Regions from separate parts of the Homo sapiens genome. Here all the other regions are reported to be linked to region 1. Evidence: microRNA targets listed by miRTarBase, many of them from high-throughput screens and not tested one by one. Region 1 holds a microRNA gene; each other region holds the end of a gene's coding sequence.
The links. Region 1 holds the annotated microRNA hsa-miR-342-5p (AGGGGUGCUAUCUGUGAUUGA, at 1,612-1,632, shown strand). A microRNA usually pairs through its seed, bases 2 to 8, with sites in the 3' UTR of a target mRNA and lowers its output. Matches are read on the target gene's strand: a 7mer-m8 pairs with bases 2 to 8, a 7mer-A1 pairs with bases 2 to 7 and ends in A, and an 8mer does both.

Region 2: the mRNA of UCP3 is a reported target of hsa-miR-342-5p. The part of its 3' UTR that is shown has no 7-base or 8-base seed match.
Region 3: the mRNA of ELN is a reported target of hsa-miR-342-5p. Seed matches in the 3' UTR shown: 7mer-A1 at 2,612-2,618, 7mer-A1 at 2,479-2,485 and 7mer-A1 at 2,124-2,130.
Region 4: the mRNA of GPS1 is a reported target of hsa-miR-342-5p. Seed matches in the 3' UTR shown: 7mer-m8 at 2,656-2,662.
Region 5: miRTarBase lists ELP3 as a target of hsa-miR-342-5p. Seed matches in the 3' UTR shown: 7mer-A1 at 353-359 and 8mer at 379-386.
Region 6: the mRNA of TCF3 is a reported target of hsa-miR-342-5p. Seed matches in the 3' UTR shown: 7mer-A1 at 1,457-1,463 and 7mer-A1 at 1,452-1,458.
Region 7: the mRNA of FAM136A is a reported target of hsa-miR-342-5p. Seed matches in the 3' UTR shown: 7mer-A1 at 2,243-2,249.

What each region holds. Positions count from the first base shown.
Region 1 is chr14:100,108,062-100,111,171 of GRCh38, forward strand. It overlaps MIR342 (microRNA 342), which reads left to right and starts at 1,594; the gene lies at 1,594-1,692. All of the region lies in intron 3 of EVL (Enah/Vasp-like), which reads left to right. It overlaps MIR151B (microRNA 151b), which reads right to left and starts at 1,453; the gene lies at 1,358-1,453.
Region 2 is chr11:73,998,801-74,001,910 of GRCh38, reverse strand. It overlaps UCP3 (uncoupling protein 3), which reads left to right. Exons shown (of 7, transcript NM_003356.4): 7 at 385-1,634. The coding sequence ends at 499. Among named protein-coding and RNA genes, the nearest start is that of UCP3, 8.7 kb to the left of the region's middle.
Region 3 is chr7:74,068,421-74,071,420 of GRCh38, reverse strand. ELN (elastin) reads right to left here. Exons shown (of 33, transcript NM_000501.4): 33 at 1,514-2,764. The coding sequence ends at 2,721. Among named protein-coding and RNA genes, the nearest start is that of ELN-AS1, 7.6 kb to the right of the region's middle.
Region 4 is chr17:82,056,712-82,059,817 of GRCh38, reverse strand. It overlaps GPS1 (G protein pathway suppressor 1), which reads right to left. Exons shown (of 13, transcript NM_001321092.3): 11 at 3,052-3,106; 12 at 2,844-2,978; 13 at 2,348-2,765. The coding sequence ends at 2,691. DUS1L (dihydrouridine synthase 1 like) reads left to right here. Exons shown (of 14, transcript NM_022156.5): 12 at 1,000-1,037; 13 at 1,402-1,477; 14 at 1,564-2,312. The coding sequence ends at 1,703. Among named protein-coding and RNA genes, the nearest start is that of GPS1, 6.4 kb to the right of the region's middle.
Region 5 is chr8:28,189,549-28,192,649 of GRCh38, forward strand. ELP3 (elongator acetyltransferase complex subunit 3) reads left to right here. Exons shown (of 15, transcript NM_018091.6): 15 at 101-1,605. The coding sequence ends at 177. Among named protein-coding and RNA genes, the nearest start is that of ELP3, 98 kb to the left of the region's middle. RefSeq lists an enhancer at 2,056-2,808.
Region 6 is chr19:1,608,970-1,612,070 of GRCh38, forward strand. TCF3 (transcription factor 3) reads right to left here. Exons shown (of 19, transcript NM_003200.5): 19 at 323-2,880. The coding sequence ends at 2,738. Among named protein-coding and RNA genes, the nearest start is that of UQCR11, 5.1 kb to the left of the region's middle.
Region 7 is chr2:70,294,620-70,297,619 of GRCh38, forward strand. FAM136A (family with sequence similarity 136 member A) reads right to left here. Exons shown (of 3, transcript NM_001329752.2): 3 at 1,357-2,858. The coding sequence ends at 2,670. It overlaps LOC124906023 (a long non-coding RNA gene), which reads left to right. Exons shown (of 2, transcript XR_007086880.1): 2 at 439-1,395. Among named protein-coding and RNA genes, the nearest start is that of SNRPG, 2.4 kb to the left of the region's middle.

The DNA of each region.
Region 1 (3,110 bases):
TGAAGCTCCTGGTGCTGGATAATAAATGTTTTCCCAGTTTTTCAACCTCTTATGTCCTTCATTGATGCCCAGTGGCCCAGGGGCTGCACCTTCAGCACAGTGTTGAGAAAGAGCCCCGGAAAGGGACTTACAGGCAGACCTTCCCGGGAAGAGTCAGGCCCAGCTCCATGTGCTCTTTGGAGGGGAGTGGAAGGTTGTTAAACCTCATAGCTCTTGGAGGTGGGGCTGAATTTTGCTTCTTGTAAACCTCTTTCCATTGGAAATTACCTCTTTCTCCCCTAAAGAGAAGGAAGTACTGGACTGTCTTCATCTCCCTGGCTGCCGAGGCCATTTGACACCTTGTGCCACCTGAGAGAAAGCAGGCCCAGCATGGCCCTGCCTGAGGGGAACAGGACGGCAAGCCCCTGGCCTCCTGCCTGCTCCCAGCTGCCCTCTGGCGGCCACTTTCTGAAAGCCGGATATGTCTCTTTGCTGACCCACCCCTGTTCTCACCCCAGGGCTCCAGATGTTGTATCAGGCAGGGCCTTTGTACGCCTCCATGCCAACAGCTACCCAAGTCGCACCGTCAGTCACACTCTTACTCAGGCTCTCCTGTGCCCCTGGCCCTTCTTCCCCTCTCACTTTTCCCCACACTTCTAAAATCTCACTCGTCCTGTCAGAATGTGGCTCCACAGATGGAGCCTTTCCCAGCCGCCCCGCTCCCTGTGACTTTGCACTCCCTCCTGCACTCCCACGGGGCTTTATTTTTGCCTCTGTCCTAACAGTCAGCTGCCACTTGGCCTGTCCTGCTATTCCCACTGCATGAATCTAGTCAGGTTGGAAATTCAGAAAGTGGCCTCTTTGTCTCTGGACCCCAAAAACCCACACATCGTCTGCCTTATAAGCTCTCAGTATATCCATCCCTGGCTGCAGGAACACACCAGGACCCAGAGGCTGCCGTGCCTGGAGCCCTGTCTCCTGACTCAGCCCAGGCCCCAGCTCAGCATCGAGGTCCTGTGGGACCATGTCCAGCAGTGAAGGCTGTGCATTGGCCTGAGCCCCTGGTCCCTCTGACTCACTGGCTCCCATTTTCACCACCTGCACTGCATATTCTCACCGTCTCTCCCCTGACACTCTCTCCCCTGAAGTGTTGTAATGGGGTTGTAACCCATCCACCTTCTCTTGTCCTTCTTCAGTCTGTCCTCCCTGGGCTGCGTCTAAAGGGGCCCCGCCCCTGCCCTCATGCATGTTCTCTCCATACTCCTGGTCACCTTCTGCTCATCCTTTGCCCTGCTGTTGTGAAGCCTTCCCAGTGCCCCAGAAGACCTCAGGCACCCCTTCCCAGTCCTCGCACACTGTTGGTGTCCCATTTGTTTGGACCCTGGGTTTGTTTGTCTAGACTGTGAGCTCCTCGAGGGCAGGTGTCTGTTTCTGTGTCTCGGGAGCCCTGAAGAGAGACTGACACATCAGAGGTGTCTGGTGACTGAACAAGCTCCCAGCTTGCGCCCATGTCATATTGTGTGCCTCTCATAGCCTGGCACTTCCTGCCATTGCATCCTTCTCTGCAGACTAAGATGGAGTTCCTGAACCAAGACCGCTTGCTGGCCAACCTGTGAAACTGGGCTCAAGGTGAGGGGTGCTATCTGTGATTGAGGGACATGGTTAATGGAATTGTCTCACACAGAAATCGCACCCGTCACCTTGGCCTACTTATCACCACCCCAAACAGAGGAACACGCCTTCTCCAGCCACAGCCTATGGAAGGGCCTTCAGCTGCTGTGGCCCCGAGGTGTGCATACTGTGGAAGGAACTTCGGACGTGAACTCGGATCTGGTTCCAGTACCAGCTGTGCCAGGAGTGTGCCCTTGGGCATGTCACTGACCTAAGACTCAGTTTCGCCATCTGTGAAATGGCTGAATCAGACTCACCTCACAGGGTTGTTGTGAGGGTACCATGAGATGATGTTTGTAAACATTCTTTGTCACCTCTAAATTACTATAACAGTTTGAAGTTACTCTTTTTAAAAAAATTATTTGCAAAGGTAACTAACAATATCAGCCGTGCACAGTGGCTCATGCCTGTAATCCCAGCACTTTAGGAGGTCAGGGGATCACTTCAGTGTGAGAGTTCGAGACCTGCCTGGTCAACATAGCAAGACCCTTGTCTCTACAAAAGCATTAAAAATTAGCTAAGTGTGATGGCGTGTGCCTGTGGTCCCAGCTACTCAGGAGGCTGGGGTAGCAGAATTGCTTGAGCCCTGGAGTCTGAGGCTGCAGTGAGCCATGGTTACACCACTGCACTTCAGCCTGGGCAACAGAGCAAGACGCTGTCTCAGGAAAAAAAAAAAAAGGTAACTAACAATATCAACTCCTGTGTGGTGCCAGCAGCCATCACGTTGGGACACAGAGGGAAGCCAGGCTTCTTGGATCCTGATGGTCAGAGAACACTTTCTGAGGGAAGCGGGGCTTGAACCTGGGCCCTGCAGGGCTGGGGGTGAATGGGGGGATCTGATGAGGAGGAGGACGGCGGCACCAGCAGATCTTGGTGGTTTGGAAGTTCAAATCAAGATCTGAGAAGAGGCTCTGTCTGACCCTGGGGGTCTCCCTCGGCACATTGGTAGTACTGTGCATGCCTCACGGGTGCCCCTAATTTCAGAGCATCCCACCTGCATCCTGCTGCTGCCATTGTCCTCCTCAAAAGAGCTGCTGGCTTATTGCAGTTTACATCCTAGAGAAGAGAGGTCTCCTCCTTCCACCAGTCCCAGGATTATCTCCCTAACGCTAATGGCGAGATTCCTTTGGAGTTTTAGTCTTCTGTAGATACAGCCCAGGCGCCATGTGCCCAGTCAGGGTTTGAGATAGGTGGTGGTTCATTCCCCAGCCTTGCCTCACCAGCACCTTCCTGACGCCTCCTGGTAGGGCTCAGGAAGCAGCCAGCTGAGGTGTGCCTGCCATGGTCAGCACAGTGGTTGACAGAAGTGGCACAGATTGTGGGGGCAGGTGACAGGGTACCATGCCCTAGCTCCAGGCACCCGCTCCACCCTGTCACATGGAGCAGCTGTGAAACCTTGAGCAAGCCATTTCACCATTCTAAGCCTTAGTGTCCTCATTTTTTTTTTTTTTTTTTTTTTT
Region 2 (3,110 bases), not on the chromosome of region 1:
CAGCAGCAGGGTGGAGTTAGAACCGCACCTCTGACACTTACTAGCCGCGGGTCTTTGGTTGAGCTCTTAACCTCCCTGGGCCTCAGTTTGTGAAAAAGAGCCTGGCAGCAACATGGCTGCCTTATAGAACTGTGAGAATTCGCTGCCTAACACAGTAACCCGTCTCAAAACGTGAGTTTTTTTTTCTTTTCCTTACTCCGACTTCTGCCTAAATCCCCTTAGCAGAAAAAAAAAAGAGAGAGAGAGACTGAAAGGATTCAGAAAATGCTTGTGATGAACAGAAGTCTGGATCCTCTGGCACTACCACTGTGTCCCGGGAGAGCACACGCATCTGTTGTGGTCCCCTAGCACTCCACCTGATGTGTTGGTTGTTTTTCTTATCAGATTTACACCCTCCTTTTTGCGTTTGGGATCCTGGAACGTGGTGATGTTCGTAACCTATGAGCAGCTGAAACGGGCCCTGATGAAAGTCCAGATGTTACGGGAATCACCGTTTTGAACAAGACAAGAAGGCCACTGGTAGCTAACGTGTCCGAAACCAGTTAAGAATGGAAGAAAACGGTGCATCCACGCACACATGGACACAGACCCACACATGTTTACAGAACTGTTGTTTACTTGTTGCTGATTCAAGAAACAGAAGTAGAAGAGGAGGAGGGATTCTGGTCTTCACTGCCATGCCTCAAGAACACCTTTGTTTTGCACTGACAAGATGGAAAATAAATTATATTAATTTTTGAAACCCATTAGGCATGCCTAATATTTAGGCAAGAGAAAATAAACCAAGATAGATCCATTTGGACAAAATGGAAGGTTGGAGACGTGTATCCCCGTGAAATCTGGTTAGATAATGAATGATAAGCAGGAAGGATGGCAAGCACGGGACAGGAGGGGCCCACAATGGAGTGGGAGATCAGCCACGGAGCCTGGAGGGATGCCACCCAGCAACACAGAGCTGGCGACTGCAGCTGCACCATCACACATGCATCATCAGCCTATTTGTAATATGTCTGCCACAGAGAGTCCTTTGGGATTCTAGGAAACCCAAGGAACAAGAGAAAAAACTAGAGCCTGTGCTAAAGAAGCCCTGCTGGGCCCATGTGAGGCTGGGGCTCGTAAATATTCCCTGACGACACTGAAGAATCAAGAGGGCAGCCCCCACTTTCCTACAAAATGGAGGGAGCCATCCCTTCCCTGTCCACCTCACCAGGGGTGCTATGACATGCAAGTGAGAAGCTGGGCATGAACGCACTTTATAAAAGCAAAAGCTCTGTGTAAATCTAACTACAAGGACAATGCCTTGGGAGAGATTTTGTCGGGACAGAGAGGAGTTGCCAGGGAAGAAGGTTTGAAAGATACGGTTGTCTAGAGGTGAGACCAAAGGATCCAGAGACTTGGGGACCAGAGGTGACAGTGGATGACGTGAAGCCACAGGAGCCCCACCCCCATGCAGCCTCTTCCCCACCCCCCCCACCACGTGCTCAATCATGAGTACCTCAAAGGATTGTTGGGCTTGGGGGAAAAGAGGTGGATTCCTGGGCAAGAACCTAAAGTAGCAGGACTCGGAATTCTCGGGAAATTATTATGACTCAATAAAAGAATTCACACCTTAGGTGTGGGAGTAAGAACAGCCACTTCTCTGCCTTTTCTTTCTTGGAATTTTCCTTTCTCACTTCTATTTCAGGCTTTCTATGTGTCAGGGCAGGGCCAGATCCAGCCCCACATGCCTACACTTCATCTGCCCCCTCTCACCCTGTTTAATTGCAGGCAAGTAGCTTTATTTTTTTAGGGTTCCAGCTCCTGCTTCTGCAAAAGGCAGGGTTGAACCAGACGACCGACTTCCAAGCTTAAGACTGTACATTTTTCGAATTGATAATGGGGACCCAAAATGCCACTATCTTTTTCTACTTCTTGGCAGCCTTGCGTAGCTCTGATGATTGTCAGGACTGGGTTCAAACCTCACCCCATTCTACCTTACTAACCACCTAGCCACAGGGAATCCTTGCACCTTGGTGTGCTACCAGAGAAGTGGGAATAACAATCGCTGCTTCACAGGCTTGTTGTGAGGGTTGACCTAAAACTCCTTGGAAAGCAGACATGTGGTGTGCACCTGCTACCTGGGAGGCTTAAGCGAGAGGACTGCTTGAGCCCAGGAGTTCAGGGCTGCAGTGAGCCATGACTGCACCTGTGAATAATGACTGCACTCCAGCCTTGGCAACAGAGCATAACTCCTTCTCTGAAACAAAACAAACAAAAAATCGTTGGCATACAGGAGGCACTCGGTAATGTCATTTCCCTGCTTCCCTGCTCCTACCCCTCCAGACCCTGGGAAAAAGCAAATATCTATTCATCCTCAGCACTTTCCTAAATTTAAATTATAACTTGAGATCATCTATGTATACAAACTGGAGAGTTCATACAAAAGCAAAAAAAAATTATTTTGATTTAATGTCTGGCTTGGTTTTCAAATAAAACCCATATTTTGAAAAGTTTCCGGTTGGTGCAGTGGCTCACGCCTTTGGGAGGCCGAGGCGGGCGGATCACTTGAGGTCAAGAGTTTGAGACCAGCCTGGCCAACATGGTGAAACTCTGTCTCTACTAAAAATACCAAAAAAAAAAAAAAAAATTACCCAGGCATGGTGGTGGGTGCCTGTAATCCTAGCTACTCGGGAGGCTGAGGCAAGAGAATCACTCGAACCCAGGAGACTGAGGTTGCAGTGAGCCAAAACCACACCACTGCACTCCAGCCTAGGCGAGACTCTGTCTCAAAAAAAAAAATTAAATTGAATTGAATTAAATTAAAAGTTTCCCTTTTTAGCCAGGCATGGTGACATGTGCCTGCGGTCCCAGCTACTCGGGGGGCTCAGGTGGGAGGATCACTTGAGCCCAGGAGGCGGAGGTTGCAGTGAGCCGAGCTTACACCACTGCACCCTAGCCTAGGTGACAGAGTGAGACCCCATCTCAAAAAACAAAAACGAAAAAAGAAAAAAGAGTTTCTCTTTCTTTTGACTTGACTGACATGTGCAAATCACTCTCAAACTCCTGGTCTCAGTTTGTAAGTTTCTAGGGCCAGGAACTATATCTTCCATGAATTTCCATATGGCAATATT
Region 3 (3,000 bases), not on the chromosome of region 1:
AGGAAAAACCAGCAATGGATATTTTTGTCGAGTGAAGTAATGAATGGATGGATGGACTGGTGGGTGGATGGATGGGTGGATAGATGGATGGATGGATGGGTGGGTGGATAGATGGGTGGGTGGGTGGATGGGTGGAAGGAGACATGGATGGATGGAAGAATGGTTGGGTGGGTGGGTGGATGGGTGGGTTGATGGGTGGGTAGGTGGACAGATGGGTGGGTGGATGGGTGGATGGATGGATGGATGGATCTACTTTGTCACCACTCTAGGGCAGGCTGTGTCACCCCTCCCTGGATTATTACAGCAACCCTCTTGTGCATCTCCTTGAACCACGCCGCTCACCCCCTCCTGATCATCCTCCATAAGTCCTCAGCACTGCCCTCTCCTACCAGACATCTAGTTGTCCTGTCCTCTGCCTGAAAGGCCTGACCCTCCTCTCTGTTCTATTCTTTGCCTGGTAAAATGTTTTTTGCCCTTTACTGTCCTCTGGGAAGCTCTCTCTGAGCATACCCTCCACCAGCTTTCTCTTTCCCTCCCAGCTCCTTCTGGGATCGCAAGGATCCTCGTATGCAAACCCACATATGCTCCAGTCTGCATGGTGAGCCCCACCCACACTCCCCACGAACAGCTCTGTTGCCACATTTCTGGCTTAGAGGTGTGCACACTCAGCACGGGGCCCGCTCTCAGGAGGGTGGCACAGGCCTGAGGCTGAGTGAGCCCTGGAAGTGGGCTTGGTGGTTGGGGAAGGGAATTCCAGTATCTGGTATCCAGAGCGTGGTCTAGAGGTAGGGATGTGGGCTGCAGGTGAACACATTCCCGGGCCCCACGGATTTCTGGCCTCAAGGGGAGGAGGAAGGGCCAGAATGGGAATGGGTGCATCTGAGTAAGGGTGGAGCTGAACCTGCTGCTGGGTATCACTTCTTAAACTTCTCAAGCCAAATGGCCTTACATGGCCACGCATGAGAGTGGGTCTTCCTCAGAGGGGACTGTTTCGGAGGAAAATGGTTACCTTTGACTGTCTTCTGCATTTTCTTAGGTCAGCCATCTTTCCTCTCTGTCTCTTTCTGTTTCTCTCTCTCTCTCTCTCGAGACAGGATCTTGCTGTCTCACCCAGGCTGGAGTGCAGTGGCGCAATCATAGCTCACTGCAGCCTCGAAATCCTGGGCTCAAGCGATCCTCCCACCTCAGCCTCCTGAGTAGCTGGGACCACAGGCATGCACCACCACCAATCTTGGGTAATTTTTTTTTTTTTTGTAGCTATATGGTACAAAGTGATTCTCCACTGGACAGCTATGTTGTCCAGGTGGGTCTCAAACTCCTGGCCTCATTGTTAAAGTACAAGCCAAACTTGGAGAAAGATCGATGCCCCAGAAGCCAGCAGCAGGGGCTTTTGGTTGGGCAACCTCTCAAATACACTGTGGGTGGTGGAGGTTCCCTGAAGCAGAGCCCTTATCCCCATCCAGGCCAGCGAGTTGAAGGCAGATTAAATCATACGAAGGAAGCTAAGACACAGTTTCCTTTAAAGGTTTTTCATTTATTAGTCATTTCTGAAGCAGTTAATTCTCTTTTCTTATTAAAAAAAAAGGTGTGTTTCATCCAGAGTTATATTAGAGTGATTAAAATGTTTTTTCTACTGGGGATACAGCTCCCCGGATCAGAAAAAAAAATTATCTTTTTTTTTCAATGAACCACAACAATAAAACCAAAAGAGAATATCAACAATCAAAAATAATCCCCAAATATCCAGGACAAAAAATAAAATATTTATTGATCTATCACAGCGAGACACAAAAAGATGGGCGGGGCAGGAATGGGAACTGCTCTGAAGTTCAGTGGACCGAGGGAGGGATGGGGGGTATACAGTACTGCATGTGGGGACACCCCGGGTGGGGAGGAGATGCCTGGCACCCCAGTCTGCACAGCCCCGCACGCCCTGGGGGAGTGTAGGATGGGGGTGGAGGCAGGGCACAGGCGGCCATGACAGGTCAACCAGGTTGATGGTGGGTGCACCCAGCCAGCTAGTGGTGCCGGGCGGTCAACTGGGGACATGGATGGACGGACCGATGGATGAATGGACGGATGGGCGGATGGATTCTACAAGGGCAAGGTGGCTATTCCCAGTGTGGGGTGGTTTTCCAACCCAAAAGCGCCCCAGATGTGGGGAACAGCGATCGGTGGGGAGGAGACGGCCAAGTGGACCCAGGAGAGGAGGGATGCTAGAGCGAATCCAGCTTTGAGGCTTCAGGTGCTTGGGTACCAACTGGATGGCAGCCAACGGTGGGTCCTGGTGGGCAGGGGGAGCTGGGACTGCCCAGGAAGTGTCTGCACCATCTTTAGAGGAGCCCCAGGTAGGGGGTTCCCCGAGGGGCCACCCTTCCCTCCTCCCTCCCCCCAGGAAGATAAGAGCACCAGCGTGTAGCACCAAGTTCCCCTGGAGATGGAGGCTGTGTGGAGGGGGAGCTCCTAGGTGGGAAGGGATGGGGTGGGGGGCCAGGACCACATGGCCCTTGCCTCTGAAGTAGGGGGCCTCCTGGTCGGGGCACTTGGCCGCTCCCCTCTTGTTTCCTTGCCCTGTGGATCTGCAAGGCCGCCCGGCCTGCCCGTTCCCTCCTGGGGTGGGGAGTCGGAGGGGCATGGGATGGGGTTACAAAGGGTTTACATTCTCCACCAAGCAGTAGCACCAACGTTGATGAGGTCGTGAGTCAGGGGTCCTAGGAAGCTCATTTTCTCTTCCGGCCACAAGCTTTCCCCAGGCAGGCCCCACCTGGACGGGAGGAGGTGCACATCACTGTGAGTCCGGCCCCTCTCAGTTTCGGCTCTAATCCCCGCCTGCTCTGACCCACTCGAATGGAGGCTCCAAGAAGCCAAGAGAAGCCAAGTCATGGCCCCAGGCCAAACTCAGACCTGATCCATGCCATCAACTTCCACTGGACAGATGGGGCGGGAGAAGCCCCCAAGATATTACTTGGATGAAACCAACGCTCGCAGAAAAGGGGGCAG
Region 4 (3,106 bases), not on the chromosome of region 1:
AGGGCTTGGCGGAGTAGTCAGCCAGACTTGGGGTCAGAACGGGGACCCTGTGCAGGCCACAGCCCGTGCATGTGGGACATGGGCTCAGTGAATCAGATGAGGCTATGGGACAAGCTTTTCAGCCAGGTGAAGCTCGTCTACAGCTCAGGGCCTCGGGTCCCTGCGGCTGCCCCTGCCCAGCCTCACACAGGACACCTGAGCAGCTGCTGAGAGGGAGGCTGGGGTCCCCGGGAGTGTGTGCATGGGTCTTGTTGCTGGGCCAAAGGCACGGGACGAGGCTGCTCGCCCCTCTCTTAGCCACCAGTGGCAAGGCCTCAGCCTAGTGCTGTCTCCCCTGAGACCCCTGGTCGCCGCCGTATCCTGGGCCAGCCCATCTGGGCCCTCAACAGGTGGCAGCCTCCCAGATCTCTGACAACTTTACAAGCTGCAGGGGAGACCAGCGATAACCCTGAAACCTTCCCATGTAACCCCCAGGGCGCTGGCCAGTCCAAGAGCAGCTGCCACATCAGGCTGGTGCCAGCAGTCCCTGCCTGCCACACTGCCCCCCACCAGGCCACTGAATGAGGCAGCTGGGAGAGGCAGGAAGTGGGGCTTCAGGCTGAATTCTTGATTTGACCCTTCTTGGCCCTTTTGCTTGGGAGACCTGGAACTGAAGGGCATGGAACCCCCCTTGGACCCTGTGGGCAGGAAAACTGCTCCCCTTGTCCCTGCCTGGGGGTAGGACAGATAAGGCTGCTCGTCCTGCGGCGGCCCCCCAGCCCACCTGCTTCCTATCCGTTTCCTGCAGGATGGTGCCCCCTGCATCCCCTCACCCATTGCTCACGGAAGGAAAAGCAGACGTGGCCAGCCTGCATCCTCTGCCCTCCCTGAGCCTCCTGGCCTGGCTGGCCACAGCTGGCATGGACGCCATCAGCAGGCTCCGTGCAGGCGGACGGGGCAGCCCCCACAGCCAGGGCACCCTGGCCCTCACTCACCAGCACCCTTTTGTTCTTTTCCTAGCAAAATATGCAAAGTGTGACCAGTGTGGAAACCCAAAGGTGAGTGGGTTCCGGCTGCAAGCCACCAAGGCTTCAGCTTTGGGGGTGGGCAGGGTGGTCTCTGCACTGCTTGGGGTGGCAGGTCTGGTGCCCGCCCAGCTGGGTTTGCAACGTGGCTCAAGGTGGCATGGATGCCTCAGGACGGCCCCTTGCTTCCAGCCAAGCCCCTGCCCAGGCCTGGAGGGGAAGAGAGTCTGGGTGGGTGGGGGTGAGGGAGAGGCATCTGGCTTGGGAGCAGTTCCCAGGGCTGCATCCAGGCCGTGGGCATCTGGCAGAGGCTTCCCCAGTGGGGCTGCTCCCCTGCTGGCCAGCCTGGCCCCGGGAGTGGTGCTGGCCACAGGCTCCCGAGATTTCCTGTGCCCAGGGCAACAGATGTGTGTTCAGCCTGTGCCGCGGCTGCTGCAAGAAGCGAGCCTCCAAAGAGACTGCAGACTGCCCAGGTGAGGGCGCCTACCACCCGCCCCGCAGCAGGCAAACAGACCCCCTCCGCCTCCTGACCCCCGACTCCTCTCACTCGCTCTGCCAGGTCACGGATTGCTTTTTAAAACCAAATTGGAGAAGTCTCTGGCCTGGAAAGAGGCCCAGCCTGAGCTGCAGGAGCCTCAGCCAGCAGCACCTGGAACACCAGGTGGCTTCTCCGAAGTCATGGGCAGTGCCCTGGCCTGAAGGCCCACAACCCCCACCCCCAGGACTGCTGCTGGAGCCTGGACACGTCCTACTTAAGAAAATGCCTTTTACTCAGGGAATCTCCTGCTACTTAATGTGGAAAGACACGCCCATGTCCCCCTTCGGCCCACTCTGGGGGCCTGGAAATGCTGCAGTGGGGAGCAGGCCCCAGGCTGGACCTGCCCTGTCCTCAGCACGCGTGTGCAAAAGTGAACAATAAATCATTTCAAAGATGCGAGAGCCCACAGCCTGTGACCACTGCCCTCTCAGACCCAGGGAGGCATGAGCCGGGGCAGGTGCGGTTGGGGCCAGTGGGGGCTTCTGAACAACAGGATACATCTAAATGAAGGCAGCATCTGGGTAGACAAAAGTGGGGGCTTAGGTCCCCTCCCCACCTCCCCTAGGCGCCTCCATAGGCAAGTGGCCAAAGCCTCCGGGAGCTTCGTGATGCCTCACAGCCTTGGAAGCACCGCCTGCGAGGCCACAGTGGCTGCTGCTGGGGGCTGTTGAATCTGAGGGCCAGGCTTCTCATTTCTCTCACCAGGCCCTGCCTCCAAGCCTAGTCCCAGGGAGACAGCCCTCAGGAACCCAAGGCCACCCAGGGGTGACCAGAGCCTGCACGGCAGGAAAGAACAGCCAAGAGCAACGCTGAGTCTGCTCTTTAATGGACACCGCCCACTTGTCTGCACCTGACTGAGGCGGGAACAGGAGGGGTCTGGGAAATGGTGCCACTGGGCCTGGGTGCCGCACAGTCTGCTCCCTGGGGACAGAAACCCACAGGGTCGAGCCCTGCAGGCCTCTCCTTCCAGGAAGGGCCACAACTAGCAGCCGCCTGCCTCCTCAGCCCCAGGGAGGGCACACAGGCTGGGTGGCACCCAGTGGCCAGGCCCCTTAGCTGGGCCGCAGGCAGCACTGAGCCGCCTGGAGGTCCGAGGTCCGTGGAGGTGGGGAGGGGGTGCAGATGTCCTGGAGGCCAAGGTTCACCCCTCACATGTTGGTGCTCATCCGGGACTGGCTGTTGGCTGGAGTCAGCTCCCCCTGGCTCCCTTCTCTGGGCGGGGACTGCAGGGGAGACAAGGAGCAGCTCACAGCCACCAGGCCCCACACGCCGTGCGCCTGCCCCCCCTCAAGCCAGCCCACCTTGACATGGATCTGGTTGCGGAGCACAGCTGCCCGCAGCATCATGGCCTTGGCGCGGCGCTGGAACTCCTTGCCCATCAACAGAGACTTCTCAAAGGTGGTGCTGCGCTGATCCACGTCCCGGGCGTATAGGATCTGTGCAGGCACAAGCTCAGCGGGGCCCAGGCTCACCCCCAGCTGCCCCCACCGCCCCGCAGCCCACAGCCACCTTGCTGTGTGAGTCCACACGGGCACTGATCAGCCCCTCCAGGATTAGCTGCGTC
Region 5 (3,101 bases), not on the chromosome of region 1:
GTCTCTGGGTGGGAGAGAGTGTAAGGCTGAGGGAAGCACATGCCGACTTTTGAGAATTGCTAAAGTGAATGCTCCTTTTTTAACTTCGATTTTTCTGCAGGGGTCGGCACCAGGAATTATTATAGAAAGATCGGCTACAGATTACAAGGCCCGTACATGGTGAAGATGCTGAAATAATGGCCACACCAGTCCACTCTTCTGCAGTATCCTCCCTGGCAGAACACGGAGAATCAGGATTTCTTAAATACTCAACAGAGAGGCTGAGCAGAGCAAATGGGGGGCTTCACCCTCATCCCGCAGCTGCAGAGACTGGAAACTGCCTTCAAGGCCACGGCTGGTCATCTGCTGACCACACCCCAGATCCGCCCTCTCCTGCGTGCACCCCAAAAAATCACTTGCGTTTTTGAGGCTTAAATCATCTATCCAGTTTCTACATTTTGCATGAGGCCTGCAGGTGGCCTATTTTGACTCAGACGGTGAAAAAAGCAAATTAACTCATTTGGACACCATAACTCATGCAATAAAACTGATTGTCATTCGAGGAGCAAACTTAAGAGTAGTTTATTTATATACCCTGGGGACAGAAAGTCAGGTTGAAACAGGAAAACCACCAGACTCTAATCTCAGCCCTTTAACGACATACGCATTGGAGCGCAAGTTAGGAAAATGAGCTTTTGTTTTCATGGAAATCATTCTGATTACAGTGCTGATGTTTAGAAATAAATAGCAGTGTGACTGGGAAAGAGGAATTGCAGTTGTGGGGGTGTGAGCCTGGCAGCAGCCAGCCAGCAGCCTCTCCCAGGCGGGAGTCTACCATCCGAGACGGCGATGACAAAGAGCTTCATTCCACATTCTTTGTTATCTCTACTTCCCACCCTCTTGGCAACTACAGAGCAGTGTGGGCAGCCCCAAGTGTGGTCCCCAGAGAGCGTTTGGCTTTCCTGTCTGTCTATCCTGAGCGGGTGGAGTCTCAGGTTGTGTGCCCCTAAATCAAGATTTGCTTCCACAGAAGCCATTACTTGCAATTTTTTTTTTTTTTCTGAGAAAGTCTCGCTGTGTCACCCAGGCTGGAGTGCAGTGGCGCAATCTCACTGCATCCTCCGCCTCCCGGGTTCAAGCGATTCTCCCGCCTCAGCCTCCTGAGTAGCTGGGATTACAGGCACCCGCCGCTGCTAATTTTTGTATTTTTAGTAGAGATGGGGGTTTCACCATATTGGTCAGGCTGGTCTCGAACTCCTGACCTCAGGTGATCAACCCACCTTGGCCTCCCTAAATGCCGGGATTACAGGCATGAGCCACCGCTCCCAGCCTTTGATTTTTTAAGGTGGATTTTGGTTGTTATAAATGGAGAAAGGTAAGAGTTCAAGTTCAACCCGTGTGTGAAAGCAAAACAATGGAAAACAGGATTGGCTTCTTCAAAGGCTCCTCTTGTAGAACTGCCTCTTTGAAATTTCGAGGTAATCTACTTTGGAGACTCTGCCTGGAGAGGGTCAGTTCCTAAGTTAAAAGCATCGCTTAACCTTGGCTCCTGTGGCATTTTACAAAGGTTTAAAGGAATTGATTCCTCTGAAAGGGCCTGAAAATAAAAAGTCTTTAACATACAAAGAAGAGTCATGTGGTTTTCTTTCTCTCCCTGTAAATGCAGTGACATTTGCCACAAATGTGCAGGTTTCAGTTTCCAACCTATGGCACTGTTCATTTCCTCCCGGGTGCTGTTTGCCATTTCATTAAACTGCTATGAGGCAAATGGCAGTGGCTTTGTTATGGGCTGGCTGTGGAACCACCACAGCTTTCCATGAGTGTCGTTTAGGGACTTAGCTACTTCTCAATTATGCTTTTTTACCCTATAAAAATAAAACAATAAAGCCTACTCCCGCTGGTTGTCAGAGCTGTGTTGCTGGAGACAGAACCAGCTGCGCAGCCCTGGAGCACAAAGTCTCTGGGCCTCGACCTTCTCATCTGTCCTAGGTGCCCAAATGGATCCACACACATAAAAGGGCTTTTGTGAAATGGTAAAAAGGCCTGCACGTGGAAAGTTCACTTCAAAAGATGACAATTTAGGGAATTTGAAACAAAATGACAGGAACTTGCACCTTTCTGATGGCTGTCAGCTATTATTGAATCCTGGTTTTATCTCAGGATTCACGAGAATCCCTCTTTCTAGCTCATCCCTGGCCTTCCTTGCCGTATCTTGTGGCCTGTGCAAAACGGCAGCAGTTGGGGAGCTTCCCCCGGGTGGCAGAGCTCCCGCCTCCCTCTGCCACCAGAAGCTTCCGCTTCTCTTGTGACTGCCAGGGCTCGTTCCGGCACGGATGGTGCTTGGCACCTCCACTGTCCGGCTGGTCTGTCTGCTCCGAGGCCTGTGGGGCCACCTCATAAGAAAGCTCAGTTGGGCACAATTCTGCTGGCCTCAGTGTGAAACCATCACAGCTGCAGGCTGATCCCATCTGAATGGAAGGACTCCTTAGCAACCACCTCCAATCTAGAAAGCTCTGCTTTTAGCTCAACTTCTGGCTACATCACCTGAAGTTTTTTTTTTTTTTTCTTTTTTTAATTCAAGTCATATCAAAAACAGACTGAAATAAATTTGAAGAGAAAATGAGATTTTTAAAATACATTATCACCGAATGAAAGGGCCTGGTAAAACTCATTGTTCCTCCCATTTGGGAACAAGCAAACCGCTTATCCATTTTCCATCTCTGCAGGCCCTAAAGTACTGCAAAGACAACTCAAAAACCAACGCCTGTTCCCCTAAAACGTCTTTCAGATTGCAAATTTTCATTGCCAATGGGGTTTTGGCTTTTTTGTTTTCAAGATTATCACATTGAAAACAGAAAATCCTGCTCCTAAAGAACTCACAGACCCCTGAGTTTACCAAAAAAAAAAAAAGCACAAGATCTGGAATCTGAAAACCTGGTTTCCTCATTAACCATGAAGCTTTGAGCAAGGCCCCTCCCCGTTTTGAGCTACCATTTCCCTATTTGTAAACACGTGTCTCTCGGGGCAAGCATAGGAATCAGATGTGGCATTTGAGAGACATTGCATAAACCAGGACATATACCAATAGTTGTTGCTGCCCCCACTGAAGTGGCTTCACTGCT
Region 6 (3,101 bases), not on the chromosome of region 1:
TGGGAGATGGGGAGCCCTCCCAGATGGGGGCTGGGAGGACCGCAGGTCCTGGATGGTTCCTACGCGCCCAAGTGCAGCCCCCAGGGAGCTGCTTTTCCCCGGGAGCCAATCCTGCTTCCAGGTGGCCTGGAGCCCTGAGTACACATGCAGGTTCCCAGCCGCCCTGGGAGCCATGGGCTCCTCAGAGTGAGGAGTCGCTTCGAGGAAGCCCAGTGCACAGGGTGGACCACGGTCCTTGCTGCACCCGAGGTGAACGTCAGGGCCCCCCCCCACTTCCCTTCCTAAACATGTGACACCAGAAAGAACCCGGGGACTGCAGGGCATCGTTATAAAATGTCACGTTTATTGCTACAGTGCTGTTATATACAGGACAGGTCTCTGAATCCACCTGAAAGAGGGTCGTTTTAAAGTCCCAATCATCCAGCCAGCTGTGTTGACACGTATACAATTATTTTCTTTAAAAAAATTTTTTTGAAAACCATCTTGAGGCACTCAGATCACACCCCCCACCCCCCATAATTGTGGTTCCCAGGAACTGCTGTTTCTTCCTCCTCGCGCTGGGTGAATCTCGTTTGAATTCTATGCAGAACGCACAGTTCCAGAGGCTATGGGGCCACTGCCCACCCAGACCTAGGGGCAGGGCCAGGAGCAAAACAAGAGGGAGAGGCAAGTTCCCTTAAGAGATCAAACTCCCAGGGCGTAGGGGAAGCCACCGAGAAGGGAGAGGCAGCCGGACAGCCCCTCCCCTCCGCCTGGCCTGGACTGGGGGCAGATACCAGGCATTGAGCTGGCCTTGAGGTTTCCCTTGCATCTACCATGGGGCCCAGGCTCCCAAGCCAGTCTGGGGAGGGGAGTCAGGCAGTCCAGGATCTCCTGGGGGTAACGGTGGGAGTCTCAGGAGTGGCACGGGGGGAGACGCCCGACCTGCAGCGGGGATGAACACAGCCAGCCCAGGGGTCCACAAGGCCTCAATGCAGGGAGGGGCATGAAGGGCACATGAAGGCCCCCAGCTAGCCAGGCCCACACCTGGGTGCCACAGTGACCACTGCCCTAGTTCGTGTGGAACTGGATGGGATCCCAGGGTAGGAGACTTGCAGTTTTAAACCCAAGACAGTCCCCAGCCAGCTGGGAAGAGCTGGTTACCCTCATGGCAAAAGACCAGAAAAGGAGACCTGGAGAGAGGCCTGGGTGCTGGGACATGGGACACAGATGGGCCCGAGGGGACACCCTGCTGGTTCTGCAGCAGGGTCGGACGCACAGCCCAAGGCCTTCGTGGGGCTCAGACCAGCACAGTCCCCCGGCTCCAGCCACTCTTGCCCTTGGACCACACAGAGGGAGGGCAGCAGGTGTGGCCCCAGGCCCAGGGATGCTCCCCAGCATTGGGGGAGGCTGGCCAGGCCCCTGGCATCCTGTCTACGTCACGATGGCCCTCTGGTGTAATGGGGACATGGTGGGGTGGGGTGGGGGGTGTCCTGTGCTGGCTCCTGAGCAGCATCCTCTCAGCCAGAGTTCAGAGCATGAGCCTGGGTCCCTGGGGCAAAGGAGTGAAGGACAGGGTGTCCAGGAGGTCCCCAGCACCGGGCTCCAGGGTGTGGTCCCCATGCCAGGGGTCACTGGTCCCAACAAAATGCCCCATTTCAGAGAGCTGTGCAGGTTCCAAGGGAGAGCAGCTTAGGGGGGCCTGGGGAGGGCGTTGTGTAGGGTAGCCCTGGGGGCCACAGCTGCTTGGCAGAGTCACCTGGGAGGGTCAGAGCCACCTTGCTGACGTCCCTTCCCCCAAGCCCAGGTCAGTCCCCTTCCTGAGGGGAGAGGATGCGGCAGGGAAGCCCCAAGGTGCCTTCATCAGGGAACGCCCACGCATCACTTTCCACATGACAAAACCAAGAGAACCCCCAACATCAAAAAAACAAAAGACCCGCCGCCTGTCCCCGTTCTGTCTGTGTGCAGTGGCTTCCGGGGGGGGGGGGGGACGGGGGGGCTCAGGTTTACACGGGGTCTTTTTAATACAACGTTTAATCATCTGGTTGATCAAGAAATGCAATGCTCAGTCTAGGAACAGCAGCAGAAATAGCGAGAGACACGGGACTTTTATACAAAAAAATTTGTTGCTTACAAAACATATGCAAAAAAAGCTTAAAAAAACCAGAGACCAAAGGCAGCATCCTTGCTAATTTTCATCTACATTAAGAAAAAAAAAATCTTGTAACTAATGTTTTTATTTTCCTTAAAAAAAATATTTCGCTTAGGCACAATTTGCTGGTGGCTTTAGAAGAATAAGCCAGGTTTCCACAGCATCCCCCTTGAGTGATATGTTTCCATTTCTCCGCTTTTTATAGTTAAGGCATTTTTTTCTTCTCTGACAAAGTGTATGTTTTGTTGCTTGCTTTCAGGTTTTGTTTACTGGAAAAAAAAAAAATGCTCCTGTCAGCCCAGGCAACAGGGCCAAGATGCAGTTTCAGGATCCATGGGACAGGTCACAGAGTGACACGGTGGCTGAGATTCGGGGACAGGGGGAGCGAGGCCAGTGAGTGGTAGGCCAGGGCCCCAGGGAGCTCCTGGACCCAGTGTCACCTTGGCCGCCCCCATCACTCCGAACCTTGTCAGGTTGGTGTTGGCTCGATGCTGACAACAGGTGTGTGAGGTGTGGATGTGGATGAAGCCCGGGGTCTCGAGTGGCCGTTCTGGGGCCAGAGCACAGGGCTGAAAGCGGGTGGCTCGTCCCACGGAGGCATACCTTTCACATGTGCCCGGCGGGGTTGTGGGCTTCGCTCAGGCCTGGGTGGGGAGCTGAAAGCACCATCTGGGGGTCTCCAACCACACCTGACACCTTTTCCTCTTCTCGCCGTTTCAAACAGGCTGCTTTGGGATTCAGGTTCCGCTCTGGAGGGAGGGGGGAGAGCTCTGTGGGAGACGGTCCCAGGGAGGAGAAAGATGTGAGGTGGGAGTGGGGGGTAGGATGTCGGGGGGGGGGGTGGGGGCAGAGCCCCATCACGTGTGGCCTCCTGTATTTCCGGCTCTCACCTCCTTCCTTGAGAAGGCTGGGGGGATGGGGTGGAGGCTTGTAAAGAAGAGAGTGGGTATCAGGGGGTGTCTGGGGAACA
Region 7 (3,000 bases), not on the chromosome of region 1:
CGATCTCGGCTCACTGCAAGCTCTGCCTCCCGGGTTCACGCCATTCTCCTGCCTCAGCCTCCCGAGTAGCTGGGACAACAGGTGCCCGCCACCACGCCGGGCTGATTTTTTGTATTTTTAGTAGACACCGTATTTCACTGTGTTAGCCAGGATGGTCTTGATCTCCTGACCTCGTGATCCGCTGGCCTCGGCCTCCCAAAGTGCTGGGATTACAGGCGTGAGCCCCCGCTCCCGGCTGGGCCTCTATATTTTTTTGGCAGGTAACCCTACAGCATACTGTCAGACCAAGTAGGGTTCCCGTAACATGTAAATTAGCAGCCTCTGAACCATTGTAGAGTAAGGTGACTGGGTCTGTCTCCAAGAATTTGAATCTATTTCTGACTGAGGGGTCTTGCAAAAAAAATTTTTTTTGAGATGAGTTCTTGCTCTGTCGCCTAGGCTGGGGAGCATGGTGTGATCATGGCTCACTGCAACCTCGAACTCCTGGCCTCAAGCAATCCTTCCACCTCAGCCTCCTGAGTTGTTGAGACTACAGGCGCACGCCACTGCACCCAGCTAATTTTTTTTTGTAGAGACGAGGTCTTGCTTTGTTGCCCAGGCTGTTCTCAAATTCCTGGCCTCAAGAGATCTGCCTGCCTCCGGCTCCCAAAGTGCTGAGATTACAGGGGTTAGCCAGCATGCCTGGGAATTCTGAAATTTTTCAAACACTACCTCCAGAACTCACTGATGTGCTATTGCCCCTGTATATAAAATGTGAAGTGCAGCACACAAACATTTTCTAATATAAGGTGTTCTTTTTTCATGTCAAGATGTGTAAAAAGTGGTCTCGGACTTGTTCCCAGTTGTTACCCCAAAATTATAGAAGACTAAACCAAAATAGAATACCTTGTGTTTAAATAGGGGATAGTTCTCAAAAATTCAGTTAATTCCTGATATTCTGGAATGGCTCTATATAAATATCAATGATAGTAAAGACTTAAACTCATCACATATTTTGCACTCTCTTAGTACTCAAAATCCTAGACACTGAATTTTTTCTAGCAGGGTCATAGCTTTGTACCTTTACTACCACTTGCTATTAGTGTTTAGTTGAAGCTAGAGACCTGACATAGATAATGAATTTCTCTTTTTAGCCTCATAGACAGTTTCTTTTCTACATTAATGAACTTCAAGTCACAATGTCCTAGTCTCCTCTCAAAGTTTTTCCCATTTACAGTGAACCAGTTCTGCATCTGAACCATAACAACTAATTTCCACTCTTCTGGACATTTTAACTCATTTAACCTGTTAAAAGGAGAAGCATCCTGAGAAAGTTACATATTCACCACCCAGATATAAGGAAAGAAGACTCAATAGTGGGGAGAAAATTAAACCTTATTTATTTTTAAAGTCAAACCACTAGGAAAATATATCACAGCCTGGAAACAGCAAACGGACAGGCTATATTATAATTTCAAGTAATAAGTTGGTGAAAATTCAACGAAGTTGCTATCAAAACAATAAGGTGCCATGCTGGGGCAGGAACACTGCCAGCTGCACAAGCCCCAGGCAAAAATGGTATTTGGTAATGGGGGCTGTCTCTCCTTTGCTCTAAGGGAGTCAGCTCATCCTAGCCCAAGTTGCTTACTTTTTCTCCCTTGAATTTCCTGTTGCCAGGGGTTTGTCTCAATTGGGCTCTGTTAATTCAGGGGGCTAAGTAGGCAATGCTAGGTGTAGGCTTTCATTCCATATGTTCTAATAAAACCAGGTTTTCCCAAATCCAGTACTTCATTTACTCTGTTGTAATCAAGTAGCCAACTGCTCCTCTTTTACTGTTCATTCCTAGATACTAGTATATATCACAATCAAAACCCCCTTCTCTTCAAGGGGAAAGTGTTACTGCAAGATTGTCCTGTCATTTTGTTACACACAGCCTCAGGGGCCATCAGCCAGTAATTCTGCTTCCCATAATTAGTGTGTCATCACCTCTCATGTTTCTGCACAGTCTCCAGGCTGAAAGATGCAGCATGTAATAATTTTAAGAAATGTACATCCACATCTTGATGACCAGAAATGGGGATCCACAAGGAACATTTCAAAGTTCTTATCCAAACTAGTCTACCTCCCAGTTCCACATCTTAAAATCAACTTGTATGCCCTTGTATAAATTACCCCAAATCAAGAAAACAAAGACCCAGAAAACTTTCTTTCCCTTCTAAGTTAGTGACCTCATTGATTTTGTTTCACAGCTTATGGAAGATGGTGGGGTGACACTTTTGGTAAACAGGATGTTGGCAACAAAGAGAAAATATCTCTCCTCAGACTCCACCAACTCTAACCTGCCAGCCTGTTAGTACCTGTGTAGTAAGAAGAGTCTGGTACCTTGGAGGGCTCTGGCTTGTTACAGGGGAAAGCCTTACTGCCAGGACAAGCACTGGCCACAGGAAATAATAAGCTCTAAAACTCTCCTGTAATATCTCTGACTCGATTTAGCACCACTTTTTTCCATTTCATTTTTTAGGGACTGAAACATAAAATAACCAGTGTCCAGAGGCAAGTGACATATGCCTTACGCTTGTGGCCATCCTTCATTTCTTCATTCGTAAACTTTGCTTAAAAGACTAAAATTCCCAATTCCTTATAAAAAATATATTCTTGCCCTCAGCCCTGATGGCCACTGGCAAATACTTTTATTTTCCAATTGATAAGAGAGCCTCCTTCATCTTCTTGGTCATAGTTGGGATGAGGTGCATGTGGTCATCCACACACTTGGTCACACAACTGTCCAGCTGCTGCTTCACCTGAAGCTCCTTACTCCCAGCATCTATTGAATCTTTGGCTTTGTCGTTGCAATGCATGGTGCACCGGGCCAGGCGGTCCTGTGGCAAGAAGGAAGAACGTAGAAAAAGCTGAGAGTAAGGCCTCCATTTACTGCGTGCTCATTATGTGTTAGGCCCTGTGCTACAGGTTTAATATGTATTATCTTGGTCAATTAAAGGGACATGGTAGTGTGATTGGCCA